3 separate regions of the Homo sapiens genome follow, and all the other regions are linked to region 2. Evidence: fine-mapped expression QTL. A gene starts in region 2. Each other region holds a variant in brackets. All regions are shown on one strand. Distances are between the middles of the regions.

Region 1 (4,239 bases), 27 kb after region 2:
ATTTTTTGAGGAACCACCATACTGTTTTCCACAGCAGCTGTGCCATTTTACATTCCCACCAACAGCACACGAGGGTTCCTTCCAATTTCTCACCAGCACTTACTGTTTTCTGTTTTTTCCTTTTCATATTTAATCTGCATTCTGCTGAATGTTTTCTGTTGTTTTGATAGTAACCATCCTAATGGGTGTAAGATGTTATCTTATAGTTTTGATTTGCATTTCCTTAATGATTAGTGATGGTAAGCATCTTCTTATGTGCTGATTGGCCAATCATATATCTTCTTTGGAGCTGTCTATTTAAGTCCTTTGCCTATTTTTGAATTTTTTTTGGTCATTATTGTTGAGTTCTCTATACATTTGTTTAAAGTTCTCTGTATATCTGGCTATTAATCCCGTATCAGATATATAATTTGCAAATATTTTCTCTCAATCTCTTGCCTTTAGTTTTATTTTTTAAAGAGACAGAGTTATGCTCTATTGTCCAGGCTGAAGTGCAGTAGCACAATCATAGCTCACTACAGCCTCGGACTCCTGGGCTCAAGTGATCTTCCTACCTCTGCCACCCGAGTAGCTGGGACTACAGGTGTGAGGACCACGCCTGGCTAGTTTTTAAATTCTTTGTAGAGATGAGGTCTCACTGCGTTGCCCAGACTGGTCTCGAATTCCTGGGCTCAAGCAGTCCTCCTACCTCAGCCTCTCAAAGTGCTGGGATTACAGGTGTGAACAACTGCGCCTGGCTTGCAACTGATTTTTTTGTGGATTGACTTTGTATGCTGCTACTTTCCTGAATTATTAGTTCTAGTAGTTATTTTTTTGTGTGGAAATTTTAGGGTTATGCACCTACACAATCATATCTATGAACAGACATAATTTTCCCTCTTTTTTTTTTTCCAATTTGGGTGCTTTTTATTTCTTTTTTCTTGCTTCAGTGCTCTAAGACTTCCAGTACTATGTTGAATAGAAGTAAAAGCAGGCATCTTTTCACTGTTCTTGATTTTAGAGGAAAACCTTGCAATCTTTCACCATTATGATGTTAGGGTCCTTTTTGCCCACCTTGGCACCCTCAAGCTATTTGCAAGCTGCTCCTGGAACTTGTGCACATCTGGCTGCCATGTGGCTGAAGGGTGGGGGATGGGTAGCTGCTTGTGGGGCTAAGAGCCAAAATTGAATGAAATTAACCACAATTTACTGTCCAGGCTTTCCCCTGCAAGTTGCAGGCCCTCCATAGACTCCAGAGCTCCAAAATAATTACATCAGACAGATTTTTGCCACTACAATTGTTGTCCACGTGGGGAGACAGATTTCTGTTGTTTCCTACTCCACCATCTTCCCAGAATCCTCTCTCTTAGAGTATTGATTTTTACCTTTTCTCCTTTCCCTTCCTTTTCTTTTCTTTTTCTTTCTTTTCTTTTTTTTTTTTTTTTTGAGACGGAGTCTCGCTCTGTCACCCAGGCTGGAGTGCAGTGGCGCGATCTCGGCTCACTGCAACCTCCGCCTCCCGGGTTCACGCCATTCTCCTGCCTCAGCCTCCCGAGTAGCTGGGACTACAGGCGCCTGCTACCACGCCCGGCTAATTTTTTGTATTTTTAGTAGAGATGGGGTTTCACCGTGTTAGCCAGGATGGTCTCGATCTCCTGACCTCGTGATCTGCCCGCCTTGGCCTCCCAAAGTGCTGGGATTACAGGCGTGAGCCACCGCGCCCGGCCTTTTTTTTTTTTTGAGACGGAGTCTCACTCTGTCG[C/T]CCAGGCTGGATTGCAGTGGCATGATCTTGGCTCACTGCAACCTCCACTTCCCAGGTTCAAGTGATTCTCCTGCCTCAGCCTCCCGAGTAGCTGGGACTACAGGTGCATGCCACCACACCCGGCTAATTTTTGTATTTTTAGTAGAGACAGGGTTTCACCATATTGGTCAGGCTGGTCTTGAACTCCTGACCTCGTGATCTGCCTGCCTTGGCCTCCCAAAGTGCTGGGATTACAGGTGTGAGCCATCGAGCCCGGGCTCTTCTTTTCTAATATATGCACTTCAGACTTTAATTTCATCTTAAGCATAGTTTAGTTGTATCTTACAAGTGTTTTTTTTTTTTACCATAATCATTATAAAATATACTGAAATTTTTTTTATCCTCTCAGTTTATAGATGGAGACTGTATTTTCTAATTTCCATTGTTCATTTCTTCTCTGACCCATAGTTTACTTAAAATAGTTTTTTAGCTGGTTAGTAGGAAAATTTCAAAATACACAAAAGTAGAGAGACTGGTATAATAAACCCCATGTACTTGTTACCACCTTCAACAGTTATTATGTAAGGTCTCACTTCCTGCTACCCCCATCCCTGCTGGATTTTTTTTTTTTTCAACTAAGGCTTTGACTGGAACTGCTGGATTTTTTAAAATTTATTTTTATTTTATATTTTTTGGAGACGGAGTCTCACTCTGTTGCCCAGGCTGGAGTGCAGTGGCCCAATCTCGGTTCACTGCAAGCTCCGCCTCCCGGGTTCACACCATTCTCCTGCCTCAGCCTCCCGAGTAGCTGGGACTACAGGCGCCCGCCACCACACCCGGCTAATTTTTTGTATTTTTAGTAGAGACGGGGTTTCACCGTGTTAGCCAGGATGGTCTCGATCTCCTGACCTCGTGATCCGCCCACCTCGGCCTCCCAAAGTGCTGGGATTACAGGAGTGAGCCACCGCGCCCGGCCACTGCTGGATTATTTTAAAGCAAATCTGAGACATCATTTTATAGCATCCATAGATACCTCCATATGTTCTTGAAGAGATAAAGACTTTTTTTTTTTTTTCAGTATAATCAGTATTTAATGTCCCATCAGTGTTTGGATTACCCCAGTTGTTTCATAAAAAAAGATTTTTATAATTGGCTTGTTGAAATTATGATATAAAGGTCCACATATTACATTTGGTTAATATCTTTCCTTTCTGTTTTTTTTTTGGAGATGGGATCTCACTATGTTGCCCAGGCTGGTCTTAAACTCCTGGGCTCAAGCAGTCCTCCCACCTCAGCCTCCCAAAATGCTGAGATTACAGGCATGAGCCACTGTGACTGGCCAGGTTAATATGTTTCTTAAATGTCTTCAATTTAGGGAAAGTTTCACATCTTTTTTTTTCCCTTGCCTTTTATTTGTTGAAGAAACTGGATATTTGCCCTATAGAAGTTCCACATTGTGGATTTGGCATCCCCAATTCTCTGTGTTTCCTGTAAATTTACTGCTTGAGTTTAAAGGCTTGATCAAATTCAGGTTTGATTTTTTTTTTTTTTTTTTTGAGGCAGGGTCTCACTCTGTTGCCCATGCTAGAGTACAGTGGTATGATCATAGCTCATTGCAGCAGCCTCCAACACTTGGCTCAAGCTGTCCTGCCTCAGCCTCCCAAGTAGTTGGGACTATAGGCACGTACCACCACACCTGGCTAATCTTATTTACAATTTGTTTAGACATGGGGTCTCGCTATTTTGCCCAGGCTGGTCTTGAACTCCTGGCCTCAAGTGATTCTCTGCCTCCTCAGCCTCCCAAAATGCTGGGATTTCAGGTACAGCCTCTGCTGATATTCTTAATCTTGACTTTTATCTTTTTAAACATATTAAGGATTTTGTTGTGAACATTTTAAAGTCTGTATATTTTTATTGTTTGGAGCCCCTACAGATCTGTTTTAATTTTCAGTTGTTTCTCTTTTATTCCTGTCATCTTGTTTCTTTGTGTACCTGGTTGTTTTTCATTGTCAAATACTGCCTATCAGAAATCGTAGAGCTGTATAAAGGCCTAAGATGTCATTGTAAATCCTGTCTGGAGGAAGATTTCTTTTGGCAAGCATCTAGGGCAATAGCAATCCAGTATCACTTTAATTTCAGGTGTTGAGGGGAGCTTAGTGTATTTCCAAGGTGTAGTGCTTCAGGTCGTAACCCAAAGCATAGATGATATACGAGGGTCCCTTACCCCTGATCAGTCACTGGATTATAGTTTTTGTCTCTCTAGCTCCACAAGGCTCTTATAATTGTTCTACCTCTCAAGCTCTTAGCCAGCTCTTTCCAAATTGGCAGGTGCTCTAGGGGAAAAGAAGCCACAGTGCTGGGCTCCACGTCCTCCCATGGATTTCCTTTCTCTCCCATATCTTCACTCTTAAATCCTTTGTGGTCTTATTAAAATCTCCAGTACCTTAAAAAAGATCTAAAAATATTTTATCCAGCATTTGTAGTCATTCTCAGTAGAAGCGTTAGTCCGAGTGTCCAGA
Region 2 (4,239 bases):
AATTACTATTCTGTCCCTGTAAACCAACACACTATTAGTCTGCACTATATACCATATTCCTGGTATCTTCATTTTCTTTTGTCCCAGACATTTCTTTTTAATTATTATTATTTTCTTATTTCCAAACAGAACTCTGAGGCAATAACGAGAATTTTTGTTTCCGTTCTTTTTATCGTTTTCTAATTTTAAGAAATCAACGTATTAAACAACATTTTTGTATTCACAGTAAACTGTGTCCAATTTAAGAGGATTAAAAAAAAAAAAACTGACATAAAGAGGAAAAAGGGCCAGGCATGATGGCTCACTCCTGTAATCCCAGCACGTTGGGAGGCTGAAGCAAGAGGATCGCTTGAGCCCAGGAGTTCAATACCAAGCTGGGAAACGTAGTGAGACCTCATCTCTACAAAACAATACAAAAATTTGCTGGGTGTGGTGGTGCATGCCTGTAGTCCCAGCTACTCAGGAGGCTGAGGTAGGAGGATTGCTTGAGCCCACAATTTGAGGCTGCCGGGGTGAGCAGTGACTGCACCACACCTGTACTCCAGCCTGGGCAACAGAGCCAGACCTTGTCTCAAAAAAAAGAAAAGAAAAGCAAAACAAAACAAAAGGTTGGGGCGGTGGGGGAGATCCAGTTAGAGAATACTGGGTGGAGGCAGCCACCCTAACTACCCACATGTCCCCCCAGAACCACCCTTCCCAGGGTACAATAGTCTTGTCAAATTATTTCAGTAATAAAGAAAGCAGTTCATAAGCTTTTAGAATCCTAAAGAGAAGAAAATGAAGGCTTTGATGAACAAAGATTAGCCTTGTTAGGAACCTAGAACAAAAAGTCAAATAATACTCCCCTTTTTTTTTTTTTTTTTTTTTTTTGAGACGGAGTCTTGCTCTGTCCCCCATGCTGGAGTGCAGTGGCAGGATCTTGGCTCACTGCAACCGCCGCCTCCCAGGTTCAAGCAATTCTCCTGCCTCAGCCTCCTGGGTAGTTGGGATTACAGGCACGTGCCACCATGCTTGGCTAATTTTTGTATTTTTAGTAGAGACGAGGTTTCACCATCTTGGCCAAGCTAGTTTTGAACTCCTGACTTCGTGATCCACCCGCCTCGGCCTCCCAAAGTGTTGGGATTACAGGCGTGAGCCACCGCGCCCGGCCTAAATATTTTTTTTTAAGTGTTTTAAAAGGAGCTCGAAATAACTGTTTTTCATTATAAGTCTAACCTCCTCTTTCCTCATGTGAAAAGTAAAGAAATGTATCGTTGCTATATGAAGGGTTCGTTTAGGGAAGACTGTGGGATGGTTAGATTGAAGAAAGTGGGAAGAAAATACTGGCGCCAAAAAGATTTTTTTTTTTTTTTATTTAAAGGCGATGATGACCTGGGGGTGATTGGGACTAGGGAGTAATACTGCCAGAATACTATCCTATTTCACGGGAAAGGGAATGCCAGGGCTGGACTCCGATATAGCAGTTATTCCTGCTGGTACCTAAGCAGTTCAGAGATGCTAGAATGCAGGGATACCACCCATCAACTAAATGAAGCATCCCATTCCCCAGGCTTCCATATGTGGGAGTTCTCTCCACCAGTGAGATAAAGGCGGGCTCAGGGAAAACAAAGCCCTAGACCACAACAAGGCAACACCTTCTCGCACCCCATTTTCACCTTCCAGGCGCGTTCCTTCCTGCTATCCGGGCCCGCTCTCCCGCCCGGCAGGGTCTAACGCTCACACAGGTCTGCCAATTCCCCTGATGCAACCCTCCACCCTCTGCTCGCTAACCCCAGTCCAGTCAGCTCTCCCGGGCCTCGACCCCCGCGGTGGAGACTAAAGGGTTCAGGTTTGGGTCCCCCACAGGCAACCGCCCTCAGGTCAGCGTATCCGAGGTGGAGCCGCGCCCCCGAGCCGGGTCATCTCGTGCTCCGTTCCTCAGTGCCCACCTGACCGATCACACTCTTTCCCGGCCCCCTCCCTCCTGCGCCTCCAGCCAACCTGGGGCCGGCCTTTCGGGATGACCGTCACGCCTGGACGCAGGGTTCCAGCGCCTCGGACTTTTCCTCTGATGGGCTCCCGGCTGCCACCTTGCTCTCCGCCACCTCCACCAGCGATTGCCCCACTTGACGCCGCCATCCTGGGCGACCGCACTGGGTACAATTCCCGCTGCCCATTGGCTGTTACCTAGGCAACCGGGAGCAACGCCACTCCGCATTGGCCCAGCCCGGCTCCACGCCATCTTTGTGCGGGGCCGAGTGTTTGCGAACCCGGGCTGACTATGTGAAAGAGGGGTGGTCCCACCTCTGCAACGCAGATAAAGACAGAGGATCCAGATCTGGCCTACCCAGAGGCCGTCTAGTTGAAATGGCAACCCCAAAGAAAACCAAACCTGCGCCCGAAGCAACAGTGACCATCAACGCGAGCGGCTCTGATCTTGCTCCAGTCCCCACTGCTGTCAAGGGCCCCGCCGCGGAGTTTAAGGCAGATCCTAAATCCAGCTTCAGAGAGGCAGCTTTGTAAATTGTAACGCGCTAGGCAGGATAGCCTCCAATAACTCTGTGCTAGACATTGTGATATCAAGACACTTTTGCATTCATTATAGGAATTTGTGCTGTCCTTGTCATTATCTAGATCCTTTTTGTTTAAAATATAGTACCTGGCCAGGCGCAGTGGCTCACATCTGTAATCCCAGCACTTCGGGAGGCCGCGGCTTGAGCTCAGGAGTGCGGGAGGCTTGAGCCCAAGAGTTCTAGATCAGCCTGGGCAACGCAGGGAGACTCCGTATCTACAGAAGAAAAAAATTACCCAGCCTAGTGGTGGGTGCCTGTAGTCACAGCTACTCAGGAGGCTGAGGTGGGAGGATCCCTTGAGCCCAGGAGGTTGAGGCTGCAATAAGCCATGATTCTGCCACTGTACCCCAGCCTGGGCGACCTAGCAAGACCCTGTCTCAAATAAATAAATTGCAAACCAAAAAGTATCTGAGACAGGTCTCAATCAATTTAGGAGTTTATTTTGCCAATGTTAAGGACATGCCCGTGACACAGCCTTAGAAGGTCCTAAGAATGTGTGTCCAAAATAGTCGGGACACCACTTGATTTTATACATTTTAGGGAGACGTAAGACATCAATCAATACATGTAAAATATACATTGGCTTGGTCCCGAAAGTGGGGGTGGGGGTGGCAAGTTCCAGGATGTAGGTGGATTCAAAGATGTCCTGATTGACAATTGGTTGAAAGAGTTTAAAGACCTGGAACCCACAGAAGGGAATGTCTGGGTTAAGTTAAGGAATTGTTACTAAGATATGCACGCACACACACACACACACACACACACACACACACACAAGGAATTGTGGAAATCAAGGTTTTTATTATGCAGAGAAGGCTACAGGTAGCAGGCTCCAGAGAGCATAGATTGTAAATGTTTCTTTATTTTTTTTTTTGTTTTGAGACAGGGTCTCCCTCTGTCACCCAGTCTGGAGTGCAGTAGCTGGATCACGGCTTACTGCAGCCTTGACCTCCCAGGCTCAAGTTATCCTCCCACCTCAGCCTCCTAAGTAGCTGAGACTACTGGTTCATTCCACTATGCCTGGCTTATTTTTGTATTTTTTGTAGAGATGGTGTTTTGTCATGTTGCCCAGGCTGGTATTGAACTCCTGGGCTCAAGTGATCCTCCCATCTCTGCCTCCCAAAGTGCTAGGATTACACGTGTGAGCCACCAAGGCTGGCCAGTGTTTATTATCAGATTTAGAAAGGTATCAGACTCTTAGTTAGTTCTCCCCTGGATCAGGAAAAAGACCTGGAAAGGGAAGGGGATTTTCTACAGAATGTAGATTTTCACCATAAAAGACACCTTTGCCTGCTATCATGACAGATGGGGCCTGCTATCTGTCAATGTTGGTATCATTGCTACAAAGAGTCTGCTGTGTCAACCTTAAGATCTCTGCTTTAATGTTAAATGCTGGTCCTGAATTCCAAAAGCAGGAGAAAATAATGAGGCATGTCTGACTCCCACTTCTCATCATGGCCTCAAATAGTTTTTCAGGTTAATTTAGGAATGCCCTTGGCCCAGAAGAGGAGGCCATTCATTTGATTGGGGGGCTTATAATTTTATTTCTGGTTCACTAGATAAATAAATAAATAAATAAAATATAGTGCCAAGATTGGAGCAAATCTTCCCAAATACCACTCACATCAATCTGTGTATCCATATGTTTATTTCTTAAACAATGTGAGTACAGCATGATGCTAGGTTC
Region 3 (4,239 bases), 49 kb after region 2:
GCACAACAGCCCTGTAAGGTAGGTATTTTAATCCTCCTCATTTCACAGATGAGGAATCTGAGGAAAGGTTAAGTCATCCATGGTTCTGCAACTAGGATGAGAACCCAGGCCTCTCTGATGCTAAGGCCCAGGTGCCGTAGCACAAAGGTAAGAGAGGAGTTGTGGAGCTGGGCTACCCGAGTTGGAATCCCACTTCTACCCCCTCCACCACTTACTGGCTGGGCATCCCCCCTGCCTCAGCTGCCTCCCGTGTCAAATTATCACCTAGTACTACTACCTACTTTGTAGGATTAATTTGAAGATTGAAGGAAGACAAAGTATATAGAATAGTGGTCAGTGTTTTCAATCTATAAAATTGAGACATCATCCCACCTCCTATCTTTAAGACCCTGGGGATGAACCAAATCTGTATAATTTAGCAAACATAGTATGAAATGAGCCAATCAGATCTAACCACAGTCCAGTGGACCTAATGAGCAAGAGGTGGAGGCAGAAGAGGAGGCTACAAGGGTTAGAATATACTGTCAAGGGCAGAGACTGAAACTTATAAGAAAGTTCAATAGAAGTTAGACTCTGTGTCAATGTCTCCCATCATATCCAGGAAGTGAAAATTAAAGGATCTCCCTTGATTCTAGATAGTTCACTTTGAATAATAAAGGCCTAAGAAGCTTACCCACCCATCCTTGTCTCCAGCACAGCCTGGAAACAAGGGAAGCCTGGCATTACATAGAACAGGTTTTGAGTTCCAACTCTGACACCTTAAGCAAGTTACCCAACCTCGTCTCTGAGCCTGTTTCCTTAACTGTCAAATGGGGATAAGATTACCCACTTCTTAGGGTTATAGTAAGGATAAATGAGCCCAGTATATCAGTTACCCAATAAGAGCTAAATAAAATTATATCAGTTACCCAATAAGAGGATAAATAAAAAATTTAAGAATACAATGATATGGCTGGGCGTGGTGGCTCACACCTGTAATCCCAGCACTTTGGGAGGTGAGGCGGGCGGATCACCTGAGGTCAGGAGTTCAAGACCAGCCTGACCAACATTGAGAAACTCCGTCTCTACTAAAAATACAAAAGTAGCCGGGCGTGGTGGCGCATGCCTGTAATCCCAGCTACTCGGGAGGCTGAGGCAGGAGAATCACTTGAACCCAGGAGGCAGAGGTTGCGGTGAGCCGAGATCCCGCCATTGCACTCCAGCCTGGGCAACAAGAGCAAAACTCCGTCTTAAAAAAAAGAATACGGCCGGGCGCGGTGGCTCACGCCTGTAATCCAGCACTTTGGGAGGCCGAGGTGGGTGGATCATGAGGTCAGGAGATAGAGACCATCCTGGCTAACAAGGTGAAACCCCGTCTCTACTAAAAAATACAAAAAATTAGCCGGGCGCGGTGGCGGGCGCCTGTAGTCCCAGCTACTCGGGAGGCTGAGGCAGGAGAATGGCGTGAACCCGGGAAGCGGAGCTTGCAGTGAGCCGAGATTGCGCCACTGCAGTCCGCAGTCCGGCCTGGGCGACAGAGCGAGACTCCGTCTCAAAAAAAAAGAAAAAAAAAAAAAAAAGAAAAAAAGAATACAATGATACAACAATTAAAAAATACAAATAAAAAATAGATACATTGTAACTACAAAACATTCACATTGTATTAGGTATT[A/G]TAAGTACCCTAGAGATGATTTAAAGCATGCAGGAGGATGTGCGCAGTCTATAGGCCAACATGGCATTTTATGTAAGTGACTTAAGCGTCCCACGGAGGAGCCTGGAACCACCCTCCATGGATACTGAGGAATTTATAAACGCAAATCCTCCTCTGTTGGCCTCTGTGACCTTTGTACCTGGGTCAGGGGTACAGGTAAACCCTCCTCTTTCCTCTAAGCTGTGTGGCACAGCCAGCTGATGACAGGCCTGTGCTCCCACCCATCTCTCCCAGCCCCAGGCCTGCTGGGGAGAGGAGGAGCAGGTCCTGCTGCTTCTCCAGGGCCTGGTTGCCTAAGTCAGACCTCATTCCACAGCCAGCTACAGAGACAGCTGTCAACAGCAACCAGCTTCCAAAAGGGGAAAAGGAACATTAAAATATTTTTAAATTAAAATATTTACATGCTCATCATAAGAGGCAAACAGTACAAAAGCTTATATATAAAAACTTTTCCAATTTCCTATCAACCCACTTGCAGAAGTAACCCTTCCCCTAACCTGCCTTTTGTTCTCTGTAAGAGTTTGAATTGTCTCCGCCCCACTCATACTCCCAAAATATGACTCCCCCCCTTGCCCTGGCCTTCTCCGCTCCTCACCTCAATAGTCACCCTCATTATCCCAATCATTTCTATGCTCACTCTGTCCCAGTTTCCAGGCCTTCTATCATAAAAACTCCACCCTGTTTTCAAAAGATTTAACAACTACAATAAAGCTGCAGAAGACTTCCAGATGAGTTAACGTCATGAAAATTGTATTTTATTTGGAAAATGGAAATTTAAAAATCTGCCTCTCCTTAGGTGCTATTATGAAAATCCAGTTAAAACCTAATCTATATGGTAATTAAGCCCCCAGAGCTGGATGACATAAACACACTGTGACAAGAAGACAACAGTCGCCAAGTAACACTTTTAGGCTGATAAAAAGAAAAGCTAACTATGGGATATTTACTCTGGATCAGGCAATACGTATGATATCCTTTAATCCTCAAAACAATTCTAGGAGTTAGGGACTGTTATCCCATTTCACAGGGAAGTAAAGGGAAGCTAAGATGCAAATATGAGTACCAGTGGCTTAGCCGAGGCCAGAGGTGGTTCAAATGACTGCAGCCCATGCTTTTATTTTTATTTTTTTTTTGAGAGTGAGTTTTGCTCTTGTTGTCCAGGTTGGAGTGCAGTGTTGCAATCTCAGCTCACTGCAACCTCTACCTCCTGAGTTCAAGTGATTCTCCTGCCTCAGCCTCCCGAATAGCTGGGATTACAGGCGTCCCCCACCACTCCCGACTAATTTTTTGTATTTTTAGTAAAGACAGGGTTTCACCATGTTGGTCAGGCTGGTCTTGAACTCCTGACCTCAGGTGATCCACCCGCCTTGGCCTCCCAAAGTGTTGTGATTACAGGTGTGAGCCACTGCGCCCGGTCAGCCCACGCTTTTAAACCCCCGAGCTGGCTTCACAGCCAGGCAGCTTAAAGAACACTTCACATTTCTATGAAGAATGCTTTCCTATTCCCACCTAATTCATGAAGGGGAAATCCTACCAATGGAAAGGGAAGGACAATGAATTATCCCACCTGGTGGAGGCAGGGGTGGAGCTGTGGAATTTCGTTAGTCTGTTCTCTAGGGTCAGGGCTCTTTCCTGGGTGACAGCCCAGCCTTGAGCCGTAGCACTCTAAAGAGGAAGAGCCCAGCTTCCACAGAAGAAATCAAGAACTGCAACCCAGCCCAGTGCACAGAGCCCTGGCTTACGAGTCAGAGGAGTCGGTTCAAGCCCTACTTCTGCCACTCACTGGCTGAAAAACCTCAGGCAATTCACATCCCCTCTGTGGGTCAGCTTCCCTGTTACTGCTATAAGAACAGCTTGATGCTGTTTGTTTCTGAGGGCCTGCACCAGTGCTGAGAGTCAACAATTCCACCCGCAGGTAAGTCTGTACAGAAGGAGGAACGGAGCTACTTGTCTGCCAAAGCCTAGGGGCAATGTGTGGACAGGTCTGGCTAACTGGGTGCTAGGAAATTCCCCAGCCAGTAGCTCCCTTTCTCCTCCCTACTCTATGTTGTTTTGCTGCAGTGGGCCCTGGGGTTAGCATCTGGTAGAAAACAGAACTCACAGCTCTAAAGCTCCCTAGTGACCTCAGCTGGCAATGACCAAGCCCGGGGCAGACGCCTAGGCAGGTCTGGGGTAGTAGGAGAAAGGGTGATATCTGGCCTCACCTCCCCAGGAAAAGAAGGGCAATAAGGATCATGTAGCAGCAGCTGCCTCGGGGAGGAAATGGCTTGGAGCCTGACTTCCCAACAACCTCTCCCAGGATGGCAAGGCTTTGACTCCACAGCTTCAGCGAGCTGCGAGTCACAAACATACCAAGAAACCCTCAGGGAGAGTCTGAGCCTCCAGCCTCAACCCTCCTTGAACCTTAGGGAGGGCCTAGCACCTCCAGATTTTGAGGCCCCTCACTCTTTTTACTCTTTTTTTTTTTTTTTTTTGAGGCGGAGTCTCACTCTGTCACCCACGCTGGAGTGCAGTGGCGCAATCTCAGCTCACTGCAACCTCTGCCTCCA

Direction of the effects. Positions count from the first base shown, and alleles are read on the strand shown. Sizes are in standard deviations (SD) of each study's normalised expression.
As copies of C replace T in region 1, the expression in Th1 cells of the gene that starts at base 2,134 in region 2 goes up (large effect, 0.89 SD a copy in Schmiedel 2018).
For the expression in pancreas of the gene that starts at base 2,134 in region 2, allele G in region 3 goes with a lower level than allele A (moderate effect, 0.52 SD a copy in GTEx).

Evidence for each region. PIP is the estimated chance that this variant, and not a neighbour inherited with it, causes the effect.
Region 1: its variant is the best candidate, but not a certain one, in a credible set for the expression of MORN4 in Th1 cells (Schmiedel 2018, PIP 0.64).
Region 3: its variant is the best candidate, but not a certain one, in a credible set for the expression of MORN4 in pancreas (GTEx, PIP 0.56).

The regions. Positions count from the first base shown.
Region 1 is chr10:97,658,595-97,662,833 of GRCh38, forward strand. All of the region lies in intron 4 of PI4K2A (phosphatidylinositol 4-kinase type 2 alpha), which reads left to right. Among named protein-coding and RNA genes, the nearest start is that of PI4K2A, 20 kb to the left of the region's middle. The variant C/T (reference allele first, on the strand shown) is at 1,742.
Region 2 is chr10:97,631,367-97,635,605 of GRCh38, forward strand. MORN4 (MORN repeat containing 4) reads right to left here and starts at 2,134. Exons shown (of 5, transcript NM_178832.4): 1 at 1,981-2,134. RefSeq lists an enhancer at 2,398-2,487.
Region 3 is chr10:97,680,352-97,684,590 of GRCh38, forward strand. All of the region lies in intron 1 of AVPI1 (arginine vasopressin induced 1), which reads right to left. Among named protein-coding and RNA genes, the nearest start is that of AVPI1, 4.8 kb to the right of the region's middle. The variant A/G (reference allele first, on the strand shown) is at 1,652.